Homo sapiens: one gene and its partners. The protein of the gene in region 3 purifies or fractionates together with the protein of the main gene of each other region. This does not show direct contact. Each region holds a gene or a part of one and is shown on either strand. Other genes may lie near its edges.

Region 1 (7,166 bases), on a different chromosome or scaffold from region 3:
GGCCAGAGCGTCACACACAGGCTATGGGGGACTGGGCAGGCCGTGGTCTGGGTGAGGCCACACCTCCGAGTCTATGCCAGCCAGTATGTCCCTTCGGGGTTACTGCTTGCTGCCAAGGCTGTCACTAACCCAGTCAGAGGTGACCAGGGCAAAGACAGCGTGTGAGCCTTCAGGTTCTGACTCTTCCACAGCTAAGGCTGAGAGCGTGCCCACTCTGCCCAGAGAGGCCCCGGCGTCTGAGAGCAGAGCCCAATTTGCTGGCACAACCTCGGCCACCAAGGCAGGAAGGGCCCTAACTAACAACGCACAAATGAATTCTCCTCTTCCGCACCCCCCTGCTTCCTTCACCAAAGAACCAGGCATCCCGGCCTCTGCTCTTCCCAGCTTTCAAACTCCTCTTGGGAAGGGCCTGTGTCTGTCTCCCCTGGAATAACACTGCCTCACTCACGACCTGCTTAAGGAATGAGGCCGTCAGAAATGGGGCTTAAAAGAAGTTTTAAACAGGCTGCCATGGAACACAGTTGCCAGATTTTCCGAATCAAAATACAGAACATCCAAGTTAAATGGAATTTCAGATAAAGAGTAATCTTTGAAGGGAAGTGTGTCCCATGGAGTACTGGGAACATACCCTAAAAATCACTCCCTGTGCATGGAACTCATATTTAATTGTGCCCCCTAAATTGGGCCTGGCAGGATGAAGACGTGGTGGCTTCCTTACCTCGAGGAGCCAGCCCTTCTTCTCACACTCTGGCCACTCCTCTGGCACGTCCTGTCGGCACAGCCCTCCAAACACATTCCTCCACACGGTGGGCAATGTAAAACCCCACCATCGCCCACACCTCCTGCCTCCGCTGGGATCCACTGCCCACCTCCCCGTCCCCTCCCCGCGGCCTGCCACCTCTGGCCACAGGGGACTTCCTGCCCTTCCTCAAAAGGAAGTCAGTCTGTGACCCAGGGCGACTGTGCTGCTGCCCCTTCCAGCCGCATGCCTCTCCCTCCGAACAGTCCACTGGTGTCAGCAAGGTCCCTGCCCTGAGTGTCACTGCCCCTGGGCAGCTGACCTGGCCCACGCCACTTCCTCCCACACCACTGCCTCCTTACCCTGCTTTATGAAGTTTTCTTGGCCCTTCTCAGTGCCCTAAATGAAATATTCATGACTTAGTTGGCATCTCCGTGGCAACCTGGCCTTGTGCCCTTGTGCCCTAGGATGTTCCAGCTCCTCACAAATACTGGCACAGAGGGGACATTCCTTGAACAGTGAATGCCACTGGACAGCCTCGAAGTCAGCGAGGATGCTGGGAGGCCATCCCAGAGGGGATCCGATGGGACCTTGGTCTAGGGGCCCTTGAAGGGTCTTCACCAACCTCAGCTTCTACGACTGTAAAAGCAACTCAAACAGAACTGTACTGTGCATGCCTGGAGGTCCCCAAACCTCCCGTTAAAATGACCAACACATGGGAGGACAGCTCTTGTGGCTGCCCCAAAGAGAAGGAGACATCCTCAATATGAAAACCACGTGCCCCACTCTGCTCCCACATGGCGTGCAACATGCCCCACACCACCCAGAGCAGGGAGGGACCCTGGCTGACTCTGGAGAGGCTGCTCTGAGGCCCAAGTCAACAAGAGGCTATGGCTGTGCAGAAGGAACAGCGCGGCGGTGACCACTGCCCAGCCTGGACAATTCCCAGGGCTCCACACATCTCTCGGTCACTGCGACCACCAGTATTATCAGATCCAACCGTTGCACGTGCAGGCGTGACTTTCTGGGTGCCTGAGTGATGGAGACAGAGACAGGCCCAAGAGTCTGTGAGTGCAGATACACAAAAGGCAACAGCAGGCTGGGCCGCCGAACTGGGCCAGGATGGACTGAGAATCCTCAGGTGGGACAAGGATCCCAATTATTCACATTTCCTGGTCCCTTCTGTCCCCACCCCATGAGAGAGGCGCCCCCGCCAGAAATATGTGTTCCCCTCCTTTTGCAGCTGGGAAAACAACCGAATGTCCTGGCGCTGCTTTCTAGAACATGTTCAGGTCTCCCAGAGCCCAGTGGCCTGAGATTCACTGGGCAGCAGGTGGCCGCCTCTCCCCAGAGCCCTTCAGTCTGGAAGTCCAAGCACAACCCTGGCGTCCAGCTCCCCTGCCACCAGGATCCAGGTTACCAGAGGCCGTCCGGGGATCTCCGGCAGCGTAGGAGGGCGGGCCCGGGCTGCAGCAGTCACGAAAACTCCGCCGGCGGCGCCCGAGGAGTTGCTAGGGGAATCTGCTCCGCCTCTAACCCGGCACACGCAGGCCCACCTGCTTCCAGCATGCCGGGACAGTTCACTGAGAGAACCGCCCCCACCGCGGAGGCACCGAGGGTCCGGCTCGCTTATGCCCACGCAGCCGGCTAGACCTTCTGTGGGGGCTCTGCTTTCTCCGCGTTACACCACCCCGACCCCACAAGGCCACGAGGAAAGTAAATGAGGCCTCAGCCCGTCCCCAGACCCCCTCCCCTAAGTGTCCACCTTTGCGCCTAGGACCCCGCGTGGGCCAAGCCGGCCTTCTCCGCTTGGACCCCGCCGGGCCTACCTGCCTTGCGCAGCAGACCGATTTGCGAGCCGTTGAGGGCCATGTAGTCGCAGTCGGTGACGACCCGCACTCGCACCCCACGCTGGTGCAGCAACTGCACGGCGCGGCCCAGCTGCGGGCTGGAGAAGGCGAACAGGCAGAGATCCAGGCTGGCGCGGGCGGCCAGCAGGGCACGCAGCAGGCGGCTTAGCGCGCTCTCGCCGTGGGGCAGGCCGCACGGGCAGCCCTCGGGGAGCTCGGCCAGCTCCGCGCCCGGAGCCCGCAGCAGGGCCTCGGTACAGGTCACCTGAGACGGGAAGAACAGCGCCTCGCGCCGCGGCCGCCGCCGCCTGGACCGCAGCCAGCGCAGCACCCAAGGCAGCGCCTCCAGAGTCAGAGCCAGGCCCACAGCCGCCGCGGCCGCCACCTGCCAACTCAACCGTCCCATGCCGCCGCTAATCCGGGACCCACAGCCACGCCGCCGCAGCGGAGTCTGCGCGCCCCCAGCCCTAGACCGCCAGGCCACGCCCCCGTCACGCGCCGCCAGCGGCCATGTGCCAGGCCACGCCCAGCCCCCCATGGCCACGCGCCAGGCCACGCCCTATCACGTCCTGCCAATTGCCACGCACCAGGCCACGCCCCCGTCACGCAGCGCCAACGGCCACGTGCCAGGCCACGTGCCAGGCCACGCCCAGCACCCATGGCCACACGCCAGGCCACGCCCCCGTCACGCCCCACCAACGGCCACGTGCAAGGTCACGCCCTCAGCCCCCGAGGGCCACGCGCTAGGCCGCGCCATGCCCCCACAACTGTCACGCACCAAGCTGAACCCACGCCTCCCATCAGCCCGCCCCCAACCCTCAACAGGTGACCACGCCTCCCTCCACGCGCCAGGCCACGCCCCCTGCCACAGACACCCTCCACCCCCCAACGCCAGGCTGTGCCCCCCATTTTCCTTCCAGCCAGGCGCTCGGCCACGCCCTCCAGGTTCCACCTCCCACCACGTGCCAAGCCACGTCCCCAAGCCCGCGCCACCAGGCAGCACCTGCACACCCGCGGGCCACGGGCCCTAGCACACCCGTCACCTGCCCAGGCCAGAGACCGCTCTCCGCGCTAGAAGCCACAGCAACCCCGGCTTTCCTCGCATGGAGCACAGCAGAGCTGCTCTGGAAATGTGGGGTCACACCTTCACTGTCTTCTCGGGAGCAGCTAGGCTGGGCTGGGGAATGACCTGGGAACACAGATAATCAGGGAATCAACACAGCTGGAGGCAGCATTGGAACCCAGCATACTGGAGGCGGTGTCGGCCCAGAGGTTTTTTCCTAGCCCAAGAGGTTTTTTCCAGCCGGCGTTGTTGGAAGGCCTGCCCTGCTTTAAGCATAAACAGAGGAAGAGACTAAGGCAGCCGAGGGCACTGGGCCGGGGGCATAGGGAAACGGGGCAATGTGGTGGTCTGGGCTGGATCCTGGAACCGAAAGAAGACATTCACGGAAAAACTGGTGAGAGCCAAATAAAGTCTGGAGCTTAATCGCATTGTACCAATGTCAGTTTCTTAGCTTTGACAAATGTATGAAAGGAATGTAAAAGGTTAACAAAGGAAGCTGCGTGGGGGTAAATGGATCTCTCTGTTCTATATTCGAAACTTTTCTGTAAAGCAAATTATTCTAAATTAAAAGTTTATTAAAATATTAAACTTGCACCTTCCATATGATCCAGCTATCCCACTCCTAGGAGAAAGGGCGGGATCCATTAACACAAGCACGTGTCCTGGCAGGCGTATGTGCCTAGAACAACCCAAAAAGGCGTCAGCAGGTAAACAGGTAAATAAGCTTTTGTATATCTGTACAAGGGAATGCTATTTAGCAATAAAATAGAATGAAGTGGCCTGGCACGGTGGTTCATGCCTGTTATCCCAGAACTTTGGGAGGCTGAGGCAGGAGGACAGCTTGAGTTCGGGAATTCGAAACCAGCTTGGCCAACATGGTGAAACACTGTCTCTACCAAAAAATACAAAAATTAGCTGAGTGCGCTGACGTGCCTGTGATCCCAGCTACTCGGGAGGCTGAGGTGGGAGAATCGCTTGAGCTCTGGAGACTAAGGTTGCAGTGAGCCAAGATCATGCCATTGCACTCCAGCCTGGGTGACACAGCAAGACCCTATCCCCCCCCCACCAAAAAAAAAAAAAAACAGTACTCACATGTGCTACGACGTGGATGAATTTCATTAATATTGAGTGGGAAAAGCCAGACAAAAAGAGTACATACTGTATGATTCCATTTACATAAAATTCTAGAAAATGCAAACTAGATTGAGGGAAAGCAGACCAGTGTAGCCTGGAGGCCAACAAAGCCACAAGGAAGTGGAGTGATGGATGTGTGCTTATCGGGTTGACTGTGGTGGTTTCACAGGTATATACATATGTCAAATTGTATGGTGTAAATAACTAAAAATGTATGTCAGTGATTATGTCAATAAAATTCTTTTTTTTTTTTTTAAGACGGAGCCTCGTTCTTTCGCCCAGGCTGGTGTGCAGTGGTGCGATCTCGGCTCACTGCAACCTCTGCCTCCGGGGTTCAAGTGAGTCTCTGCGTCAGCCTCCCGAGCAGCTGGGATTACAGGCGCCCACCACCACACCCGGCTAATTTTTGTATTTTTAGTAGAGATGGGGTTTCACCATCTTGGCCGTGCTGGTCTCGAACTCCTGACCTCGTGATCCACCTGCCTCGGCCTCCCAAAGTGCTGGGATTACAGGCGTGAGCCACCGCACCCGGCCTTCTTTTTTTTTTTTTTGAGATGAAGTCTCGCTCTGTCGCCCAGTCTGGAGTGCAGTGGCACGATCTCGGCTCACTGCAACCTTCACCTCCTGGGTTCAAGCAATTCTCCTGCCTCAGCCTCCCAAGTAGCTGGGACTACAAATGCACACCACCACATCGGCTAAATTTTTGTTTTTGTATTTTTAGTAGAGACGGGGTTTCATCGTGTTAGCTAGGATGGTCTCGATCGCCTGACCTCGTGATCAGCCTGCCTCGGCCTCCCAAAGTGCTGGAATTACAGGTGTGAGCCACCGTGCCTGGCGAATAAAATTCTTAACAAAGAAAAAGAACACTTGAGTTTAGTGCTGGCTCCCAGGCTTCCTAGCTGCATGGTCTAGGGCAAATTGATTCATCTCTTCTGAGCTTCACTTTCCTCATCTAAAACGATAATGAGAGGAGGGACTTGGAGTTGTGGAGGTATAAAGAAGGACTCAAATCCCTCCAGAGAGGGATAAACAAAAATAAAACTGGGGGAAAACAGTTTTCAAAAACAGCCACTTCAGGGCTGGAAATCTACCAAAGGCAGACAACAAAATGAGAAGCTTTATTTGATTTTTATTTATTTTTTGTCTTCCAGTTTCTATTTTTAACTTTGTCGGTATATAGTAGGTATATATATTTATCGGGTACATGAGATATTTTGGTACAGACATGCAATTTGTAATAATCACATCAGGGTAAACAGGATATCCATCACCTTAAGCATTTATCCTCTTTTGTGTTACAACATTTAGTTATTAGTTTATTTATTTATTTATTTATTTGAGACGGAGTCTTGCTCTGTTGCCCAGGCTGGAGTGCAGTGGTGCGATCTCAGCTCACTTTGCAAGCTCTGCCTCCCAGGTTCACGCCATTCTCCTGCCTCAGCCTCCCAAGTAGCTGGGACTACAGGTGCCCGCCACCACGCCCAGCTAATTTTTCGTATTTTTAGTAGAGATGGGGTTTCACTATGTTAGCCAGGATGGTCTCGATCTCCTGACCTCACTATCTGCCCTCCTCGGCCTCCCAAAGTGCTGGGATTACAGGCGTGAGCCACCGTGCCCGGCCTAGTTTTTTATTCATTTATTTTTCAGATGGAGTCTTGCTCTGTCAGCAGTGACGTGATCTTGGCTCACGGCAACCTCCGTCTCCCAGATTCAAGCAATTCTCCTGCCTCAGCCTCCAGAGTAGCTGGGATTACAGGCACCCACCACCACGCCCGGCTAATTTTTGTATGTTTAGTGGAGACGGGGTTTCACCATGTTGGCCAGGCTGGTCTCGAACACCTCACATCAGGTGATCCGCCCACCTTGGCCTCCCAAAGTGCTGGGATTACAGGTGTGAGCCACCGTGCCTGGCCGTTTGTGTTTATTTTTTATTTTTTGAGACAGAGTCTCGCTTTGCTGCCCAGACAGGAGTGCCATGGGGCCATCTCAGCTCACTGCAACCTCCACCTCCCTGGTTCAAGCGATTCTCCTGCCTCAGCCTCCTGAGCAGCTGGGATTACAGGTGCCTGACACCACGCCTAGCTAATTTTTGTACTTTTAGTAGAGATGGGAGTTCACCATGTTGGCCAGGCTGGTCTCGAACACCTGACCTCAGGTGATCCGCCCACCTTGGCCTCCCAAAGTGCTGGGATTACAGGTGTGAGCCACAGTGCCTGGCTATAATAACCATTTTAATATGTGTGTGTATGTCATTAACATCATGTCGTATACCTTAAATATATACAATTTATTTTTTAAAAGCTTATACAAACTATATTATCAGATAAGGGGTTAATTTCCACAATATATAAGAGCTCAAGTGATTCTCCTGCCTCAGCCT
Region 2 (7,746 bases), on a different chromosome or scaffold from region 3:
TATATAATTTTAGTACAGCAAGAATTTGTTTATATGGTATAGGGTAGAACATTTAGTGCTAATGTCACCCTCTTCCCTCCTTATAAATTAAAAGGTAGCATGCCCAGGGTTCCAAGCTTCTTATGTATTCCTCACTCCATGAGGCTTGCTGAGATCACTAAATATCAGTTGTGCCTTCATAAGAAGGGAGGCACTGAAGAACTACATCCTTCTGCACCAACACGTATCTTTGATCTCATGTATGTTCTCTGCACTGCTTCTGTGGTAGTTCAATAACAAATTGAAGCACAAGTAACTTTATCCATGAATGAGATACCATTCTTCCCAATCTTTGAAATCTAGATCAAGTAGTCTGGTCTACTTTAAATAATTACACCAATATCTCCTAAAAACCCTACTGGATCTCCACTACCACCCCCAAATTACAAATTATAAAGTGCAGCTCATGTACTGGTATTGAAGTAATGCTCACTGTCACATCAAAGGTAAGTAAGGCACACAAAGAAAAGACAATCACAGGATATGCAATATGTGTTGTATAGTGTGGGAGAAGTTGCTGGCTGATCACAAGGGTAATTTCCTTGGCACTAGATGTGACCATTACCTGGTTCCAGCCAACAGAATGTAAATAGAAGACCTGTATGCCATTGTCAGCCCTTGCCCATAAAAACTTCCTATAATTATGAATTATAATTCTTTATGATCTTTCCCCTTCTGGTTTGATGCAAGCAATTTTGAAGGTCATGGTTGAAAACGGCAAAATTCCAAGGTAGGAAGTTGCAGAATCCCTGAATCATTACTTGGAGGAGAGTCATTTTATTAGTCAGAGTTCATCAGAGAAGCAGAATCAATAGGGTGTGTGTGTGTGTGTGTGTGTGTGTGTGTGTGTGTGTGTACATACAGGCATACCTCATTTTACTGCACGTTGATTTATTGCATTTTTCACAAATTGAAGGTTTCTGGCAACACTGCATTGAACAAGTCTACAGCTGCCATTTTTCCAACACTATAGTCACTTTATGTTTCTGTGACACATTTTTGTAATTCCTTTTTTTTTTTTTTTTTTTTTTTTGAGATGGAGTCTTGCTCTGTCACCCAGGCTGGAGTGCAGTGGCACAATCTCGGCTCACTGCAACCTCTGCCTCCTTGGTTCAAGCGATTCTCCTGTCTCAGCCTCCCGAGTAGCTGGGATTATAGGCGCGCGCCACTATGCCCGGCTAATTTTTGTATTTTTAGTAGAGACGGGGTTTCACCATATTGGTCAGGCTGGTCTCCAACTCCTAACCTCAGGTGATCCGCCCGCCTCGGCCTCCCAAAGTGCTGGGATTACAAGCGTGAGCCACCGCGCCGGGCCTTCTTTCACTCTCAACACACCTATTTAACACACTTTTTGTACATGCTATTTCTTATAACTGCGATGCCTTTCTGCTGTTATTCAGTTTTAATGGCTGACTGAGGATCCGACCAACACTGGTATATTCCAGAAGTGGTGTTTGACAATCACCTATTACTTAAAGTTTTAGTTGTCATGTGGCTTCAGGAATGCAATGTAGAATGATATAATAAAAAGTACACCCAACATGGCACAATCGCACCAAGTTTCTAGTTTTATTATTAAAAAGACAAGTGATAAAAACTGCTGTGGGCCTGTTTTCTCATTTGTGACGTGAACTAGACAATCCAAAGATTCTTTAAAGTTCATAATTCTAGTTTTCTATTTAAAAACACCAGTATTTATTAGGTACTTAAAAAGTACTACAGCTAACTTACAACACTTCAATTTCTAGACAAATGCATCAACATACTTACATCATTTACACACAATAATTAACCTTATCAACTAGCTAAGACAGAGAGTACAGAATATCTTGTTCTGAGGATTTGGAGATGAGATCTAAATGTTACTGGAAGATCAAACCAATAAGACGTGAAGGCAAAACTCCAAACTGAAAACAGGTCAAACTTACAATGACCCAAAGGAGGGCTACCTCGAGTGATGTCGACATTTGTAAAACAAGCAAAATCATCAGATGAGATCGGGATTTTGCCTGCTTTTAAGCAACAAAAAGTTTATACGTTAATGAACTCTTTTCTAATTTGAGACTTCTTCCTGTGGCCACGTTATTTACCTTTTCTCTCCCAGTCCTGAGCTTTGGTTGCCATTTGCTTTTAACTCCCAAGCAAACACCTCCTCTTTGTTGCTTGGGCAGATGCTATAAATAAAATCAGCGAAAGTGTCTGATTGATGGTAAACAGGCCTGGGGCGATAATGAGTCTAGTAATTAGGGCCTCTCTGGATTCAACCCAGCCCTTTCGCCCGCCCCCCGGCGGCGCACAATGGGCTCTGCGCGGGTATCGAGGGAGCGGCCAACAGTCCCTGGCCCCACCGCCGTGAAGTGGGGTCCCTTCGCTTCCACATAGGTGGAGACTGAGACAGCCGAGCCTATTTTGATCTCGTTTGGGTTTCTGTAAGGAGCAGTCAGCAGAGTGAGCAGCGCCCAGACGCGCCCCGGGCCCCCTCTACAACCATTGGGAGAGCGCCCCGGGCTCAAGCGTGGAACGGGGCTGCAATGGCAACCGCTGGAATAACGGCCTCGGCTCCCGGTGGCTCCTCAAGCCCGCAGGGGAGGCCGGCCGGGCTAGGCACCTAGCTGTCCCCGTGCTCGTCCGCCCCAGCCCGGGCGCAGCAGGTGGATGCGGCGGTGCTGAAGACACAAAGGGTCCCAGGTGGCACCACCTCCTGCGTCCACCCACGGGGCCGCCAGAGCCCAGTCAAGACCCTAGCTCGCTGCAGCCCCATCGCCAGACTCAACATCCACCCTCACTTGGCCCCGACCGGTTCAGCCCTCTGGCGGCAAAGTAACGGGGTGCCTGGGGGAAGCAGCAACGACTCCGCTTCCTCACCCCAATCTGCGCGCAAAGGGCAGCGGGACAGCGGGAACGCGGCCTGCTGCTCACGCACCTCTCTTGCGGCCTGTTTTCGGCAGTGACAGCTCAGATGTCCAAGTCGTTGCCACTTGGTCCCCGCGTCTCTTCAGACCAGTCCCGCCGGCGGCCGCGCAGCAGCGACTACTAACCGCGCGTGCGCGTGCGGTGGCGGGCGGGAGGCGGTGGCGGCCCGAGGTGTGTGCTACGCGCTCCTGCTCCGAGGGGCTCAACCGCCTCCAGGGGGAGCCGCACATGGAGCCTGTGCCGCCGCCGGCCGGTTGTGGCCTGGACCCCGCTCCCGGGTTAGCCCAGGAGGAATTCCCCCTGCAAGTCCGAAGACTTTTCCTCCTCTGAGCTCCCGCCCTCTCTGCAGACCGTGCTACCTCCTGTTGCGCAATGATTGGGTCCTGAATTTTATGTAAATCATATTTATGAACAACGTCCAGTAATAAGTGCAGCAAGATTAGGGCTCTAGGTTTTCTCCAGAGTTCTAGATGTTAACAGATCTGCAGTCATGGTGATTAATAAGGAGCTTTCCTGTCTGGTGTGTGTATATGACAAATACAGATGCGTTAAGTGTTAATAAATACATTGTATATAAAACAATATGTTCTTTTTCTCTCGAACAACACTATTAATAAGAGCTGCTAACATTTATTGTGTTCATTGTGCTCTAAGGGGCTTACATTCATTGTTTAACCTTCGTGGCAACCCAGGTGATGAAACTGATGGCAACTTGCTCGAAGTTACACAACATGTAAACAGTGGAAACGGGATGTAAATCAGGCCTGTCTCTCTCAGAGCCTGTAGTTTCAAACACATTGAAATAAATCTTAGCATAAACGTAGTTTATGCTATGATTATGCAATCACAAGCTGCTTTGCCTTTTATATATTGGATCAATATTAATTTTACTACTTAATATTTTATAGTAAATCTTGACTTTGAATTTGGTATAACAATTTAATTTTATTGGAAGATTAATTAACAACATTTAATTGACTTGTGAGTCTAAGACCCTTGTTGAAGAGTTTCAATCTTAAGGGTTTGGTGGCATTCCGTGCACAACGTATCATTATTGGCTAGGGGTCAAGATCACTGAGTTTTTTCACATTGCTTCACTAATTAAGACCAGCATTTCTAAACTTTTGACTTTGTCATCTCTGGGAGAGTGTTTGGATAGTGTTAAAATTTACTGGTTAAAAAGACATTTTGTTTGAGATACTTTGTAACAATATTATACCCTTTATTTCTTTCTTCCGTCCTTCTGACTTCTATTATTCAACATACTTCTGTGGCCCATAACAAATACACTTGAACTGCTAGAGAGGGATTTTTTAAAGGATCCATTCAAAGTTTGCAGTGAGGAAGCTGAAAACTAAAAATGTAAGAATAGTGAATTTTTGCAAGATTTAGTAGTATCTTCTTGGTCACATAGTACTCAAAACCTTGAGAACATTTTTTTACTCTTTGGCTGCTACATTCACTGCCTCCATAAATTAAACTCTAACTCCATAAAATCATCTAAAAGAGGTCCTCACCCCCTCCAGTCCCTGTGCCATTTCTCTAGTTTAGATTCTCACTACTTTAGAAACTGTTGTTCAGAGTTACCTAACTAGTTGCCCCCCTTCAGAGCCTCCCACCTACACTTCGTAGTTTAATCCTCAGCTCATTCAATAGTTTCCAATGACCCTTCATTACCCACAGCATGAAATCTAATCTCTAACCTTGAAATTTAAGGCCTTAACATATCTCCAAAATTATTTGCCACTTATTGAAAGGATGATTGAATATAATATTTATAATTTGTTTAATAGGCAACTTTTCATCAGAATAATACAATGTGATAATGTCAGAGGAGAAAGAATAATCTGCAAATAAGACAAGGGGTATGGCTTTTGAGAGTGATGTAGTGTTTAATAATACAAGCGGAGGAGTCCCAGAATGTAATGCTGAATGGTAGAGTCGTGAAGTGTTCTGACACATCAAAGTTGAAGAGAGATTTGGGAAGAGACCAAGGCAATGTAATCAAGATTGGAGGGACTAGAGTAATCAGAAATCTAGAAAAACATAAAAAGCAGGAAAGGTGACCTGGCATGGTGGCTCATGCATGTAATCCCAGCTCTTTGAGAGGCTGAGGCAGGTAGATCACTTGAGCCGAGCTGCCTGAGACCAGCCTGGGAAACATGATGAAACCCCATCTCTACAAAAAAATACAAAAAATTTAACTGGGCATGGTGGTGCATGCCTGTAGTCCTAGCTACCTGGGAAGCTGAGGTGGGAGGAAGCTGAGGTGGGATGAGCCCAGGAGGCAGAGGTTGCAGTGAGCCCAGATAGTGCCACTGCACTCCAGCTTGGATGGCAGAGTGAGACATTGTGTCAAAAAAAAAAAAAAAAAAAAAAAAAAAAAAAAGCAGAAAGGTTCATGCTCCTTGATGGAACAGAGTGATGTCCTGTTGGAAGCCTGTTTTGTAATCAAAATCAGAGCTGTGTTTTATTAATGTTCTACTATGTGCAAGTTGCTATATGCAATTGACCCACAGGTATCATCCTTATTTTACTTATGAGGAAATAGACCCAGATCAGTTACATAACTTATTCACACAGATCTTAAGATGCAGAGTGAGGATTCAAAGCCTGTGCCCTTTCCACAACACCTTGCCACTTGAAAAATGCAGAATATAGGAAATGCCTCGATTATCAGGATTAAAGAGCTATGCAGAATGAAGTTTTAACTCAAATACAATGAGTGGACTCAGAACCTAGATAATTCAAATAATACTTTAAAAATGTTTGTATATTTTCATATGTTTAGGAATGTGCTTTTTAATGGTGCAGAAAATAGAGAAAAGGAAACAAAGTATTCCACAAGTATTTCCAGTGGGTTGACTTTTATTTTCAAGATGTATAATTATGTCTATGGCAGAAAATGATCTTTTCTTTCTTATATTTATACTTATTTTCTGAGGTTTTTTTCCTTATTACTTTAACAAAAATATCAAACAATAGTAAATAATAGTAATGACAATAGTCATCATTGTTTTTCCCAGAATTCGTCTGGTTAAACTATATAGTTGGCAGAATGAGCCCATGCTGAGTTTTTTTCTTGTGTCTCAAGATAACCCCCCTCAGAAACACTACCCGACTTTAGGATTTATAGAATGATATACAGCTATAGTTATCAAAGAGTTATCAAAGAGTATTAGTATCAAGGCAAACAAATCAATGGAACAGAATAGATTCTATATAGACTTACATGTGTATGTATTATGGCCTGGATATGGTTGGTTTGTCCCAACCAAAACTCATGTTGAAATTTGGTCCCCAGTGTGGCAGTGCTGGAAAGTGGGGCCTAATGGGAGGTATTTGGGTCATGAAGGTCCTGTCCTCGTAGGTGGCTTGATGCCATTGCAGTAGTGAGTGAGTTCTTGCTCTGACGAGACTGGATTCATTCCCATGAGAATGGGTTGTTATAAAGCTGGGTGCCCCTCAGGTTTTCCCTCTTTGCATGCGTCTGCTTCCCCTTTGACCTTCTCTGCCATCTTTTGGCCTAGCACAAAAGCCTCACCACAAGCCAGAGCCATGTCCTTGAACTTCCCAGCTAGCCAGACTGTGAGTTAAATAAATCTCTTTTCTTTATAAATTACCCATTCCCAGGTGTTCTGTTATAGCAACACAAAACAGAATAAGACAGTGTGGGGAACTGGTTTTCAACATAGGTACACATGCAGTTGGTAGAGAAAGCCTAGTCTTTTCAACAAATTGTGGTGGTACAATTGAATATTCACATGTAATAAGTACATTTTTCAATCCATACCACACAGCATATATAAAAAAAGAGACTGGCTGCATTTTGCCCCGTCTTAGATATTTGTGGAACTTTGAACTTGAGGGAGATGATTTAGGATATATGGTGTAAAAAATTTCTAAGCAGCAAAGCACTCAAGAGGTGACTTGGGTGCTATTAGAGGCACTCCGTTTTAAAAGGGAAACAGAAAATAAAAGGTTTGAAAATTTGCAGCCTGACAATGTGATAGAAATGAAAATCTCCACTGCAGAAATTTTCATAAGTAACAAGAAGCCAAATGTTAATCCACACGACAATGGGAAAATGTCTCCACGGCATGTCAGAGGTCTTCATGTCAGCCACTCTCATCACAGGTCCAGAGACCTAGGAGGAAAAGACAGTTTTGTGGGCTGGGCCCAGGGCTCCTCTGCTCTGTGCAGCCTAGGGACTTGGTACTCTGTGTTCCAGCTGCTCCAGCCATGGCTAAAAGGGGTCAACGTACAGCTCAGGCTGCTGCTTCAGAGGGTGGAAGCCCCAAGCCTTGGCAGCTTCCAGGTGGTGAGCCTGTGGGTACCCAGAAGTTGAGAATTAAGGTTTAGGAACCTCTACCTAGATTTCATAGGATGTATGGAAACGCCTGGATGCCCAGGTGGAAGTTTGCTGCAGGGGCGGGGGTCTCATGGAGAAGCTCTGCTAGGGCAGTGCTGAAGGGAAATGTGGGGTCAGAGCCCCCCACACAGAGTCCTTGTGGGGCACCACCTAGTGGAACTGTCAGAAGAGGGCCACCATCCTCCAGACCCCAGAATGGTAGATCCACTGACAGCTTGCGCTGTGCACCAGGAAAAGCTGCAGACACTCAACACCAGCCTGTGAAAGCAACTGGGAGAGAGGCTATACTTTGCAAAGCCACAGGGGTGCAGCTGCCCAAGACCGTGGGAACCTACCTCTTGCATCAGCGTGACCTGGATGTGAGACATGGAGTCAAAGGAGAGCTTTAAGATTTGACTGCCCTGCTGGATTTCAGACTTGCA
Region 3 (7,326 bases):
GATTAAATTGTGATCGGTATAGAATACAAGCAAGGCAAGAAAGAATTGAAAGAAATATTAATAGAATATTTTAGGTATTATCAAATAAAGCCAATGTGCTGAAGTACTATAAAACTATAAGGACCGGCTGGGCGCAGTGGCTCATGCCTGTAATCCCAGCACTTTGGGAGGCCGAGGCGGGGGATTCACTTGAGGTCAGGAGTTGGAGACCAGCCTGGCCAACATGGTAGAACCCCGTCTCTACTAAAAAATACAAAAATCAGCCGGGTGTGGTGGTGGATGCCTGTAATCCCAGCTACACGGGAGGCTGAGGCAGGAGAATTGCTTGAACCCAGGAGACAGAGGCTGCAGTGAGCCAAGATCATGCCACTGCACTCTACCTGGGTGACAGAGTGAGACTCCATCTCAGAAAAAATAAAATAAAGAAAGAAAAAGAAAAAGAAAACTATAAGGACCATCTGCAAATGGAAAGAAACGCTTATAAATTCTGCTTAACTCAATCCCAGTCTCCATTTATCACAACAAGCTGTAAACAATCCAGAGAGAAACAAAAAGAGTTATACTACTTAACCTCAATCAGAAAATGAGTTGTACAGACATATCCATTTCCTTACATTATTACATTTGTTAATTGAGGTTTTACTCCATTGAAAAAGACTCATTATTTTAAATATCATTAAAAATCCATTACTTATTTTCTCCTGGATCATTTTGCTGCTAGTTAGACACAAAAAAGATTCAAAGATTTCCTTTAAGAACTTACCTTTCTAAGCATTTCATTATCTTGAACATTATTGAGTTCATGTGAACTAATCTCTCCTTTCAGCATATACTCATAAAATTTTCCACTAACATTTACCAGTAAGGTAGTTGGACTTGACTGCACTTCACAGCTCAGGGTCACATTATTTACATCACTCGGAACATGAATGCCATACCGAAGCACAAGGCCCACCAAAAGACCTGGAAAAAAGAACAACATAAGCTCTTCTTGCCGACAGAGACCACTTCTTTTGTACCCCACGCATAACTATGGATAAGAGAAAATCTCTTACGGTAGTTCCCTGTAGCTCAGAACTGATTTTTAGATGAAATGCAGTTATGTTTTAAAATATTACTAAATTCATACAACAAACAGCCCAATCTTCATATAATCCAGTGAAACAGGAGAGAAAAACATTCCCTAGGACAACAGCACAGATCACTGCATTTCTAGATCAATATTTAAATAAGTAATGAGGAAGGTAACAAAAGGAGAAAATATCTTCAAATCATCTGTAGACAGAATATGCTCCAATGTGTCCCAACTCGACAGTGCAATCGTGTTAGAAATGTGTTTTCTGGCCAGGCGCGGTGGCTCATGCCTGTAATCTTAGCACTTTGGGAGGCCGAGATGGGTGGATTGCCTGAGAGCTCAGAAGTTCGAGACCAGCCTGGGAAACTTGGTGAAACCCCAACTCTACTAAGATACAAAAAATCAGCCGGGCGTGGTGGCGGGCGCCTGTAATCCCAGCTACTCAGGAGGCTGAGGTGTGAGAATTGCTTTAACCCAGGAGGCAGAGGTTGCAGTGAGCCGAGATCATGCCACTTCACTCCAGCCTGGGCAACAAAGTGAAACCCTGTCTCAAAAAAAAAAAAAAAGAAATTTGTTTTTCACCTCCATTCATCAATTTATAAGACTTAAACAATGCACTTCGCAAGTTTATTCCCAAAGCACATGACTGGCCAAACAATGCACATTTAACAAATTGAAAAGTCAATAATATTTGTAGGTTGATTGAGTTCTTCTACTTCTAAAAGATCAGATTTTAATTTTAAAAATCTGCTTCAAAATCAAAACATGGAATAGAAGTCCTGAATCTGGCACTATGACATCAAACAGATTGCTGGATCATCCTACTGACATTCAAATATGCACAATGTTCTAGGTACTGTAAAACTAAATTTTTTTTTTTTCTGAGACGAAATTTTGCTCTGTTGCCCAGGCTGGAGTGCAGTGGCATGATCTCGGCTCACTGCAACCTCCGCCTCCCGGGTCCAATCAATTATCCTGCCTCAGCCTCCCAAGTAGCTGGGATTATAGGCTCACACCAACACACCTGGCTAATTTTTGTATTTTTAGTAGAGATGGGGTTTCACCATGTTGGCCAGGCTCCTGACCAAGGTCGAACTCCTGACCTTGTAATCCATCCACCTCGGCCTCCCAAACTGCTGGGATTACAGACCTGAGCCACCATGCCCAGCCCTATAAAACTATATTGATCGACTATAATTGTTTAGTAATGGCTTTACTGATATCTAATTCAAACACCAAAAGTTTATCCTTTTAAAAACTGTACAATTCAGTGGTCTTTAGTGTATTCACAAAGTTGAACATCAATCACCACTATCTAATTCTAGAACATTTTCCTTCCCTCCAAAAAGAACCCCACACCTACTAGCAGTCACTCTCCATTCCCCCATGCCCGAATCCACAGCCCCTGGCAACCACTCATCTACTTTCTTTCTTTATGGACCTGTCTTTTCTAGACATTTCATATAAATGAACTCCTACAATATATGGCCTTTTGTGTCTGACTTCTTTCACTTAGCATATTTTCAAGGTTTATCTATGTTGTAGCATGCATCAGAACCTCATTTACTTTTACGACCAAACGATATTTCATTGTATGGACATACCTCAACTACAAATAAAACCCAAACTTCTGGAACTTTCCTTAACTCCATGCATAGTATACCACTACTAGCTGCATTTTACCTTCCTATTGCCTTTCATTCTGACTAGCCAGCCATTCTTTTAATACGTGAATGAGTGTACTATGCTAGGTAGGCCTCCAGGGTTCAGAGATGAAAACAAGGTCCCTCCTTCAAGGAAAACTCGGTCCAGTTGGTGAAAACAGACTGAATAAACAATCATAATGTCAAGGAAAACTCGGTCCAGTTGGTGAAAACAGACTGAATAAACAATCATAATGCTATATATATATATGTATACAAGGTATTATAAAAACAGAAAAGAGACAACTATGCAACCCTGGGGGAGTAAGACATTAGGGAAGTCTTTCCAGAGATGTCACCTGGGCAGGTAACAAACTAGAAGAAATGGGTATATTCCACGTAGGGGAATAGTAGTACATATCAGTCAAGGATGGAGACAACACAGCCCATCCAGTGAATCAAGTAGTTTAGTATGGCTGGCTTATAAAGTGACAAGAGTTGAGGTTTGAAAGATTGGCAGGAGTTGAATCATAAAAGATCTTATCTGTTGGGGAAGGGAATTTGAAGTTTATCCCAAAAGTAAAATGAAGTCATAGAAGGCAGAGGCTTGATAGCAGATTTCTACTTTAGAAAGACTGGTCTAGACTAAAGAGGGTCTAAAAGGCTAGATACAGGGCTACTGTAGGCATTCAGGCAATAAGAGTTTAGGTCCTAACCTAAGAGAGTACTGACAGGAGGCGAGAAGGATTTTTTGAAGGTATTATATTTTAGGAAGATTTAGTGACTGAGGAAGGGAGATGAAAGACTAAGAGGAACCTTAATTGATTTGGTAACCAGGTGGGTAAGTTGGCCTGAGCACCGAGGGGGATAACAAGGACATTCAATGAGGTAAGGAACATACACAGATGAACAGATTTACAGGGGAAAAGGCTACATTCAGTTTTGGACACGTTGAGTTGGATGTACTTGTGACACACGCATAGTTGAGTATGTGGTATCTGGAGCTAAAGCGAGGGGTCTCAACTGGAGATATACACTGTGCAGTCATAAGATGGTTGAAGTCAGATGTAGATGAGATCGCCAGGGGAGCAAGTAAAATGGGAAGAAGACTATGATATAGATCTGGGGTTTGATCTATTAACAGCCAACATTAAGGGGCTGCTAGAGGAGAAGGAGCTGATGAAGGAGTCTGAGAAGGAAAACCCACAGGAGTAGAAAAAAAAAGGAACCAGTGGTGGCAAAGTCAGGAAGAAAGGGAAAAAATTCATTTTTGAGGAGAAGGAAGTGATAAAAACTATCAAATGCTATAGTAAAGTCGAGTAAGGCAGGCATTAGAAGTATCCATTGGGTTTGGCAACAAGGAGGCCATAGGTGACCTTGATAAGAGCAGTTTCAGTGGAGTAGCAGGAGTGGAAACCAGACCCAAGTGAGAAGTGATGAAGCAGAAATGAGGAGGTATAAGAGCAGTCGTTGCCAGCCGGGCGCAGTGGCTCACGTGTAATCCTAGCACTTTGGGAGGCCGAGGCGGGTGGATCACTTGAGGTCAAGAGTTCGAGACCAGCCTGGCCAACATAGTGAAACCTCATCTCTACTAAAAATACAAAAATTAGCCGGGCGTGGTGGCAGGCACCTGTAATCCCAGCTACTTGGGAGGCTGAGGCAGGAAAGTTGCTTGAACCCAGGAGGTGGAGGTTGCAGTGAGTTGAGATCATGCCACCGCACTCCAGCCAGGACAATGGAGCAAAAACTCTGTCCAAAAAAAAAAAAAGGCAGTAGTTGCCCAGGAAGCAGGGAGGGAGCAGAGAGGAGGGATCCTTCTGGTCAATTTATAGTCACATATATTTTTTAGAGTAGTAATGATTCATTCGTGAACAGTAGTATAATGACACCAACTTTAAAAACGTTTAAACAAAGGTTCGAATTTAAAATAAATGAAAGACACCTTTTAAAAATATCTCACCTCCAAAAACAAAATTAAAAACTGACTGTTAGATAGCAACTGCACTTGACAGACATAACCTAGAAGAGAAAAGCCTGTAGATCCAGTCGTTCTGCCTGTATGAGACAGAAACAGCTCTTTTCTCTACTATTCCACAAGAGCTAATTAAGAGGCTCAGTAAAAGCTGTCCTCTTATATTTACATGCAAAAATCACAGACAAGCTACTACAAATGCTAATAATGGCAGCATAAATTCCTTCCATGTCCCCAAGCCCAACCATGGTTCTTTTTTTTTATTTTATTTATTTATTTATTTTTGAGACGGAGTCCTACTCTGTTGCTGAGGTTGGAGTGCAGTGGCGTGATCTCGGCTCACTGCAACCTCCGCCTCCCGAGTGCCCACTGGTTCTACTGTTTGCCCAACCCTATGCTGAAGCATCACTGGGTACCCTGAGGAGAGCTCAGCACTTGGGCAAATTTGAAACACATACCTTGGTCGATAAAACAACAGCATGGAGAATAATTATTTAGGTTGAAAACAAAATCAAGATCCCTTTATTATGGCACCAGGCATCTGAAAAATTGGTATTTGAAAAAAATTCACAGATCAAGTTAACGAGGGTTCTGTAAAAGGCCAAATCCTAGTCATAGAGTCAAAGCAATTCTCAGTGAAAGGATACAAAAACAGAGCTTTGTTAAGAGACTAAAGCAGAAACTTCTAGCCTCCTACATAGAGGGAGGCACAGAAAATATTTATATTATGAAACTTTAAATGACCACTAACAGGCAACAAAGAACACAACCATGGCTGGGTGCTGTGGCTCATGCCTGTAATCCCAGCACTTTGGGAGGCCGAGGTGGGTGGATCACAAGGTCAGGAGATCGAGACCATCCTGGCTAACACAGTGAAACCCCATCTCTACTAAAATTACAAAAAATTTAGCCAGGCGTGGTGGCGGTCACCTGTAATCCCAGCTACTCGGGAGGCTGAGGCAGAAGAATGGCATGAACCCAGGAGGCGGAGCTTGCAGTGAGCCGAGATAGCGCCACTGCACTCCAGCCTGGGAGACAGAGCGAGACTCCGTCTCAAAACAAAAACAAAAACAAAAAAAACACAACCACAAAGAGATATCTTTCACAAAACAGAGAGGTCCTAACGCGTCTCAAAACAAAAACAAAAACAAAAAAAACACAACCACAAAGAGATATCTTTCACAAAACAGAGAGGTCCTAACCCTCCTACACATTCCTGACCCTCCTGTGCTGAAAAGTCTCCCAGTGATAAAAAAAATCAGCATCACCCAAGGCCCTACTAATGTGTGATTCTCCCAGTTGGCAGTGACTGGTTTCCTCATGGATTTCAGCCCATTATTCCAGCCAATCACACCTGAAGCCTCTGATAGTCAAAAATATAGGAAGAACATCACTAGGGCATTAAGTGTGACCAAAACTGATACAATTTCTACAGATTAGTTTTGTGAAAGATATGATGAGAAATAAGGTATGAGCCATAGTCATTAGATGATAAGTGCTTTGAGGGCAGATACTGTGGCTCAAACATGTATTTCTCATCATATCCCATACATCATAGACATCTAATCAATATTTATTGATGAATCACATTGGTTAAACCTCGGACTCCAGATGCCTTAAGCTTAAGGCAATACAAATATTTCTGCCATATTTTGCTTTTTATACCATCTGTAAGCACAGTGTAGTGCGTGATCACTTTTCAGACTTAATTTAACTACCTCGACAACTTTTACTAACAGTGACTCACTTTTAAGCTTCTTAAGAAAGCTAACCCAAGGAGCAAAACATGTGGGTACTTTGCAATTGTGTGTTTGTAACTGGAGCAATTGATCTATATTACAATCTAGAAACTGACCACTTTGGCAATTTAAACTGTTTTTACTCCTGCTTCTCAGATAAAGGAAAAGCTTATTTTTAATAGCATTTTCCAGGATTTACGTAGCTAACCCAATATCACAGGAATAAGATCACCAGTGGGCTGAATCTTAGAGGTCTAGGCATCCCATTTTGACCCCAGAGTCATGCTGAAAAATAAAGGTTTTAAAATAATATATTAATAATAATAAGATAGCTATGATGTTGTGAGAGCTATAAGAAAAATAACAGACAATAAATAGGACTAGAAAACTTCCATTTCTGACCAGGCGAGGTGGCTCACACTTATAATCCCAGCACTTTGGGAGGCCAAGGTGAAAGGATAGCTTGAGCCCAAGAGCTAAGAGCTTGAGACCAGCCTGGGCAACATGGGAAGACCCCCCCACACTCGCGTCACCACAAAAATAAAAATAAAAAATTAGCCAGGTGTGGTGATGCACACCTGTAGTCACAGTAACTCAGAAGGATGAGGTGGGAGGATCACTTAAGCCCAGGAGGTTGAGGCTGCAGTGAGCTATGACCCCACCACTGCACTCCAGCCTAGGCGACAGAGCAACACTCTATCAAAAATAAAAAAAGGAAAAAGAAAACTTCAATTTTCATGCTATTGAAAATACTTTGACCCTCCACAAAAAAAGAAAGAAAGAAAGAGAGAGAAAGAAAGAGAGAGAAAGAAAGAAAGAAAAGAAAGAAAGAAAGAAAGAAAGAAAAGAAAGAAAGAAAGAAAAGAGAGAGAAAGAAAGAAAGAAAGAAAAGAAAGA
Region 4 (7,326 bases), on a different chromosome or scaffold from region 3:
CTACAATATATAATCTGCAGTAAATCTCATTCTTTATATTTTTCATTTCAGACATTATAGTTTTCATCTGTAGTAGTTCAACTTGGGTATCTATTAAAATTTTTTCTTTCTTTCTTTCTTTTTTCTGAGATGGAGTCTCACTCTGCCACCCCGGCTGGAGTTCAAAGGCGTGATCTCGACTCACTGCAACCTCTGCCTCTTGGGTTCAAGCAGTTCTCCTGCCTCAGCCTCCTGAGTAGCTGGGATTACAGACGTCTGCCACCATGCCTGGCTAATTTTTGTATTTTTCATAGAGACAGTATTTCACCATGTTGGCCAGGCTGGTCTTGAACTCCTGACCTCAGGTGATCTGCCTGCCTCAGCCTCCCAAAGTGCTGGGATTACAGGCGTGAGCCACCGCACCTGGCCTATTAAAATTTTAACATCTTTTTTATATCTTCCCTGTCTCTAACTTTTGAACATATGAAATACAGTCATAATAACTGTTATTTCTATGGTGATTCTAACATCTGTGTCAGTTTTGAGTTGGTTTTGATAGATTGATTTCACTCTTCTTTATGGGTTGTCTTTTCTTGTTTTTTTGCAAGCCTGGTAACTTTTGTGGATTCCAGACATGAATTTTACCTTGTTTGTTACTAGAAGGTCTTGTATAATTTACAAATATTCTTAAATTTTGTTCTGGGATGTAGTTATGTTATTTTAAAATAATTTGATCCTATTTTGTCTTTTAATAATTGTTAAGTGGGACCTAAGCAATGTTTGGTCTGGGGCACATTTTCCTGCTATTGAGGCCAAATCCTTCTGAGCATTTTACCCAGCATCCCATGAATTACGGTTTTCTAGTCTGGCTGATAGGATCAGGAACTGTTTCTACCTAATCTGTATGAATGCCAGGTACTACTTCCTCTAATCCTTTTAGAGAGTTCTTTCCCCAGCCTGAGTAGTTCCTTATGTGTGTGTGCTGATGAGTACTCTGCTAATTCCAAAATGGTACCTTTGCAGATTTCTGGAATTCTCTGTCCTCTACAGTTCTCTCTTATTCAAACTCTGTCTTGGTCTTTTTAGACTCTTAGCTCCATTTCTTCAACTCAGTGAATGTACTGGCTCCATCTGCATTTCCCCTCCATACACTGTGGTCTGGAAACTCTCTGAATGCAGTAAGCTGGGACAGTCACAGGGCTATCATCATTTGTTTTCCTTCTCTGGTGATCACTGCCCTTTGTTGCCTGATTGCAATTTTATTAGATCATTGTTTAATACATCTAACCTGGATTTTGAGTTGTTTCAGGCAGGATGGTAAATGTCTTGGCTAGAAGTGGAAGTCTTATATATCTGTATCTTTGGCATGGTGAATGTAAGAAAGCATTCTGTTCCCTAAGTATTCAGAAAAGAGACTGTTCGTGCATATTGACTCTTTTCTGGATGGAGTTTGGAAAGAATAGTTCTCCTGTATTTTTTTTTTAGAGTGATTTTTCCAGTAATTTTCTTTTCCAGTTTTTTTTTTCACAGTTGGATTAGATTATTAGGCAATATGGATTACTAATTCCATTATGTTTTATTAGAATTAGATTGGAACTCTTTGTGGAAAGCTACTGAAAAGATCACATGCTATTTTTTTCATGGCTGTTTTGCCTCTGATGTTTATTCCACCAATATTTGAAGAAAGAGATAAAAAGGAGAACCTAGACATAATCTTTCTATTGTCAATTTTTCTATCACTAACATATGTTCTGAAAAAGGACATTCCTGTCCTATAGTATATTGCTGCCAAAATAAATCCCAAGAGATTGAAGTTTTATTCTATTTTCAAATTGTTTCCTAGAAACCAGCCACCTAATTCACAAAGAGATTAAGAGCCAAGTCTTAGAAACATAACTTTAAAAAACTATATACCAGGACATGCCTCATTTGTGAATGTATGCGTGCTCATAAATTGGGTAATTGTGCACCTAACTACTGTATTCATTTTTTATTATTCGCTTTGTGCTTATACAAATGAAGGCTTTTTCATTCATATTCTGTAGCCTTGGACACTCATGATTGGAGGATAGTTACTTTTTATGCTCCTGTTCAATGTTAATGCGTACAATTTTACAGGAAATTATAAAATGTCTCCAATTACTTTGGTATAGCTGTAACAATAGCTACTTTATTAAACGTGTTCTGAAGTAGTGTAGGTAATTGACAGTTAATTTGGCTTTATCAGGTTATATAGAAAATGTTAGAGAAGCTATAAAAAACCTTTCGTATCAGAGTGTTTGCCTCAAAAGGCTATGTTGGCTGGGCGCCGTGGCTCATACCTGTAATTCAGCACTTTGGGAGGTTGAGGTGGGCGGATCACTTGAGGCCAGGAGTTTTAGACCAGCCTGGCCAACCCAATGAAACCCCGTCTCTACTAAAAATGTAAAAAAATTAGCCAGGGATGGTGGTGCATTCCCGTAATCCCATCTGCTCAGGAGGCCGAGGCACGAGAATCATTTGAATCTGGGAGGCAGTGGTTGTGGCAAGCCAAGATCCCATCACTGTACTCCAGCCTGGGTGACAAATCGAGACTGTGTCAAAAAAAAAAAAAAAAGACTGTGTTGACATCTGAATTTAAGTTCTGCCAACTATAATTTAAAACTTAAGTTCCCTTAAACTGGTCATGATGGTAAGAATAGATAGCCCAGACTTTTTGAGATTACAGCTCATCTCTAAAATGACAAAGCTCAGATATAATAGTAGCCTTCATAAAATTTATTGCCAGACACTGCTAAGTACTTTTACAGACATTTCCTCATTTAAATAGACTTTGAAAGAAAAATCAGCTATTTAATCTTTAGGACAATTTTGTAAAAGGATCAATATATGTACGTATTAATTTCCTATTGCTGCTTTGACAAATACCACAAACTTTATGGCTTAAAACAACATAAATTTATTCTCTTAAGAGTTTTGGAGGCCAGAGATCTGAATTGAGTTTCACTGCACTGAAACCAAGATGTCAGGAGGGCTGGATTCCCTAGAGAAGCTCTAGGAGAGCATCTGGGGTATTTTTGTTTGTTCGTTCGTTTGCCTTTTCCAGTTTCTAAAAATGTCTTCCTTGCTCATGGTTGCTTCTTCCATCTTCAAAGCTAACAGCCACATAACCTTTTCCTCTTCTGTAGTAAAATCTTCTTCTACCTTCCTCTTATGAAGACACTTGTTATTACAAAATGGCTCACCTAGATAATCCAATCTCAAAATCCTTAATTATATATTCAGAGTTTCTTTTGCCATAAAGAGTAATATTCACAGATTTCATGATTAGGTTATGGATATCTTTGGGAGACCTTTGTTTAGCCTACCACGAAATTGTATTATGTACATCAAAGTGGAGTACAGTATACTGCCATAAGTCACATAAAAACAAAACAGGAACAAGCACAGTTTGGAATTAAGTTGAACAGAGAGGTTGATAATATAAGTAAGAGATCTTGGATTGCTGTTCTGTGTTCCAGCTTTTATATTATTGACTGATTGTTTTTGTTGCTGATAGAAATGAATAGAACAATGATCTTCAATTTTTTATTTTTATTTTTTCGAGACAGGGTTTCACTCTGCTGCCTACACTAGAATGCAGTGACATGATCATAGTTCATTGTAATCTTGAACTATGGTTCAAGGATGGTTCAAGCCATCCTCCTTCCTTAGCTTCCTGAGTAGCTGGGACTGCAGGCACACACCACCATGTGCCCAGCTAATGTTTTCATTTTTGTAATGATGGGGGATTGCTGTGTTGCCCAGGCTGGCCATGAACTCCTGGGCTCAAGTAATCCTCCTACCTGGGCCTCCCAAAGTGCTGGGATTATAGGCATGAGTGGCTACACCTGGCCCAATTTTTTTCTAATATGTTTTATCTTCTACTCTTGTCTTTCTTTTTTCTATATAAGACCAATGCTTAGTAGTCTAATGTCATGAATTGAAAGACAGATTTACATAGTCTGATATTATAATTAATTTAGAAATACATTATATTTGATGTTTGAGCATGTCCTTAGACACATGTTCAGATATGCTTCGTTATTCCCTTTAAGCCTTTTCTTTACTTTTTCCTTCACTTTTGTTACTCTCAATGCTAATGAATAATTGACCTCTTTGCCACTGATCATGGTACTCTGGGGATGAAAGATTTTTAGGAAACAGCTCTAGAGGTTTGTTAACTCCTAGAAGATCATAGATTTCTGAAGTAGATTAATATTTTCTATTTTTCGTTATTATCATTTCATTGTCCATTTCACTGGTTAATCCTATACCTTTGAAGAGAAAATTCCATTTGGTACTACTTTTGTGCTATATGGTTCAACAACTTATGGAGTTTACAGTATAAATGTTTTAGAAAGTGAGCTTGTATTTTGTTGCACAGTTTGAAAGCTAAATGTTTACATTATCTTCCCTAAACTACAGGATACCAGAAGGCCCTATTGATCAGGGGCCAGCTATAGGAAGAGTACGCGTTTTAGAAGAGCAGCTTGTTAAGGCCAAAGAACAGATTGAAAATTACAAGAAACAGACCAGAAATGGTAGGTGATTATACAGTGTTTTCCCCTCCTCAGTATATGGGCTTTAGCACAGATAATTGAAAGTTTCCTTTTATCAAAATGTTGGAAATGCTACAACTCTCTATTCTTTGACTACAGGTCTGGGGAAGGATCATGAAATCCTGAGGAGGAGGATTGAAAATGGAGCTAAAGAGCTCTGGTTTTTCCTACAGAGTGAATTGAAGAAATTAAAGAACTTAGAAGGAAATGAACTCCAAAGACATGCAGATGAATTTCTTTTGGATTTAGGACATCATGAAAGGTACTATTCTCCTTTCACATTTTATTTGGGCTTTAGAAAAGATTATAATCTAAGAATGAGAAACAGACTTGTTAATCCATCTGTTGAGTGGTAAATATTAATAGCACCTACAATATTTAAGAGGCGAAGAGTACCTGAGGTCCCAAAGGATGGTAATTGCCAAGTGCAGTTCATCAACCAAAATATACCACCAGAAAGTATTAATTAAAATGTATTTCTAGAAATCTTTACATTCTAAATAAATTCTGAAGGTAGTGGTGCCAGCCAACAATACATTAAAATATCTTTCTATAAATGTTCTTTATATATAATCAGTATTTGAAGTGGAGTGTGCAGTTTTGCATTGCGGTACATTGGAACTCATAGTGAGTCCGATGGTTACATTTCTAATTCAAACATTAAAAACTTTAAAATAGCATTTTTTTAAGGATTTCTAATGAAAGGTTAACAGGATTTTTTTTTTCTTTAAGTAAAAAGGAGCATTCTGTTCATTGTTCTTTCATTAGTTGCTGGAAAGAGGTACCTGAGATCTGCCTGGTTAAATTTGTTTCTCCTATGCACACGTTGCTAAATAATATGAAGTTTATCTTCCACAGAAAAGAAAACATTTTGGTGCTGTTGTATTCATGCAGAACAAAATGTATCTGAAAATCATTATAAATACAGTGAAACCTGTCTTTAGGCCTGTTATATTTAAAAGTCTATGTTTCCAGTAGGATTCTGATGGCAATTACTGTCTCATTAGTGAACAATAAAAGAAAAATTGTTGTATTAGCACAACCTACTACTGTGAAGAGGAAAAGAATTACCCCATACAAGTAAGAGATTTCATATTTATTAACATCAGCAGCAATATTATAATGATTTTGAAAAATTGCTTGGTTGTTTTAGGTGAAATTATAAATAAAAATCTGTCTATTGGAATCATTTTAGCATTAATGAATCTACAGAAATATGATAGCATGGATTTCAAGGGGCAGTGAATTATTAGGCCACACATTGGACAGACTTTTTGATATATTTAGCCCAACTTGCAGTCAGGCCATACTTAGACCACTAAACCAAATGCTGACTAATTCTGTCATTAATATTTCTCTACCCTAAAGCTGATTCTAGGCACGAAGCATCTCTTAAATGGAATTTTGTGCTTGTGTTCTTTGCTTATCACAGTTTTTTAGGCCAATTCACATCTGAAGAGGATTTGACTTGGGTAGACTATGCTGTATGTAAAGGAGAATTTTGGCCACTGACTTCTGATGGAATGTTTAATTTTAAGATTTGAGTAATTGGGCTGGGCGTGGTGGCTCATGCCTGTAATCCCAGCACTTTGGGAGGCTGAGATAAGAGATCTCTTGAAGCTAGGAGTTTGAGACCAGCCTGGCCAACATGGTGAAACCCCGTCTCTACCAAAAATACAAAAATCAGCCATGCATGGTGGCACATGCCTGTGATCCCAGCTACTTGGGAGGCTGAGGCCCAAGGATCACTTGAACCTGGGAGGCAGAGGTTGTGGTGAGCAGAGATCATGCCACTGTACTCCAGCCTGGGCAACAGAGCAAGACTCTGTCTCAAAAAAAAGATTTGAGTAATCAAATAACTTGAGAATTTAATTTTCCAGTGTTTTTAAAAATTAATTCATATATATATATATATATATATATATATATATATATATATATATGTATGTATATATTTATTTATTTATTTTTTAGATGTGGAGGTCTTTCTATGTTACCCAGGCCAGTCTTGAACTCCTGGTCTCCAGTGATCCTCCCTCGTCAGCCTCCTGTGTAGCTGGGATTATAGGCCTGGGCTACCATGTCCAGCTGAATTGAAATAATTCTTTAAGGAATTATTTTGTAAATAATAATATAATTTGTTTATATAACTCGCATATGTTTTGTGACCATATGTACAAATGAAAAGTGAATATAAGAAATGGGCCCCTGAGAAACTGATATAAATCAGTTTTCCATTTTGTTGTTGTTGTTGTTGAATTATGATTCCTTACAGTGCCATTTAGTATGTTAAATAATGGTAGTTCATTGAAAACAAAAATGGTAAGTAAAGGTACCCAAGTCAGTTTATTTTCCTGTCTTAAACAGAAATGACAATGAATCTGGGACATAACTTCATAGGGTAGTAATTTAACTCCAGGAAGCCAGATTAGAATGCAGTAATACAAATAATGAGCAAAACACAATCAAACATTAGAGAAATAACCCTTAAACTGACGGACGTACAAATAGAAAGGACTTTTATTATGTAGAATATACCCTTTTACTGACCATTTTCAAGATCCTTAAGTATAAGAATTAAAATCAAAACAAACTTTTAGGTTTGCCTCTGGTAATTTTTATATGATACAAAAGTCCATTTTATTTTTACATTGGCTCAAATGATAGTGTATAGGTTTCTAGGTCTGTAGCTGGGACCATGGTCAGTGAGGCTGCCACCTGGGTATGGGCCTGCCTTCTTAAAAGAGCCCTCCTGAGTCTTGGGCTC

Evidence for each region.
Region 1: the proteins of SLC9A6 (region 3) and PLD6 purify together in Homo sapiens (affinity purification with mass spectrometry; 3 studies listed by BioGRID and IntAct, with this or other methods). This does not show direct contact.
Region 2: the proteins of SLC9A6 (region 3) and CLGN purify together in Homo sapiens (co-immunoprecipitation; 3 studies listed by BioGRID and IntAct, with this or other methods). This does not show direct contact.
Region 4: the proteins of SLC9A6 (region 3) and FUT8 purify together in Homo sapiens (affinity purification with mass spectrometry; 3 studies listed by BioGRID and IntAct, with this or other methods). This does not show direct contact.

Annotation. Positions count from the first base shown.
Region 1 is NC_000017.11:17,203,292-17,210,457, forward strand, and holds the start of PLD6 (mitochondrial cardiolipin hydrolase), read right to left. Parts: upstream 3,043-7,166; 5' UTR 2,996-3,042; coding exon 2,569-2,995; intron 1-2,568. UniProt on the Homo sapiens protein: Presents phospholipase and nuclease activities, depending on the different physiological conditions. Interaction with Mitoguardin (MIGA1 or MIGA2) affects the dimer conformation, facilitating the lipase activity over the nuclease activity.
Region 2 is NC_000004.12:140,424,575-140,432,320, forward strand, and holds the start of CLGN (calmegin precursor), read right to left. Parts: upstream 3,075-7,746; 5' UTR 2,963-3,074; intron 2,214-2,962; exon of another isoform or gene 2,130-2,213; intron 1-2,129. UniProt on the Homo sapiens protein: Functions during spermatogenesis as a chaperone for a range of client proteins that are important for sperm adhesion onto the egg zona pellucida and for subsequent penetration of the zona pellucida.
Region 3 is NC_000023.11:135,988,423-135,995,748, reverse strand, and holds part of SLC9A6 (sodium/hydrogen exchanger 6), read right to left. Parts: intron 964-7,326; coding exon 764-963; intron 1-763. UniProt on the Homo sapiens protein: Endosomal Na(+), K(+)/H(+) antiporter. Mediates the electroneutral exchange of endosomal luminal H(+) for a cytosolic Na(+) or K(+).
Region 4 is NC_000014.9:65,611,553-65,618,878, forward strand, and holds part of FUT8 (alpha-(1,6)-fucosyltransferase), read left to right. Parts: intron 1-4,425; coding exon 4,426-4,541; intron 4,542-4,658; coding exon 4,659-4,821; intron 4,822-5,537; coding exon of another isoform or gene 5,538-5,639; intron 5,640-7,326. UniProt on the Homo sapiens protein: Catalyzes the addition of fucose in alpha 1-6 linkage to the first GlcNAc residue, next to the peptide chains in N-glycans.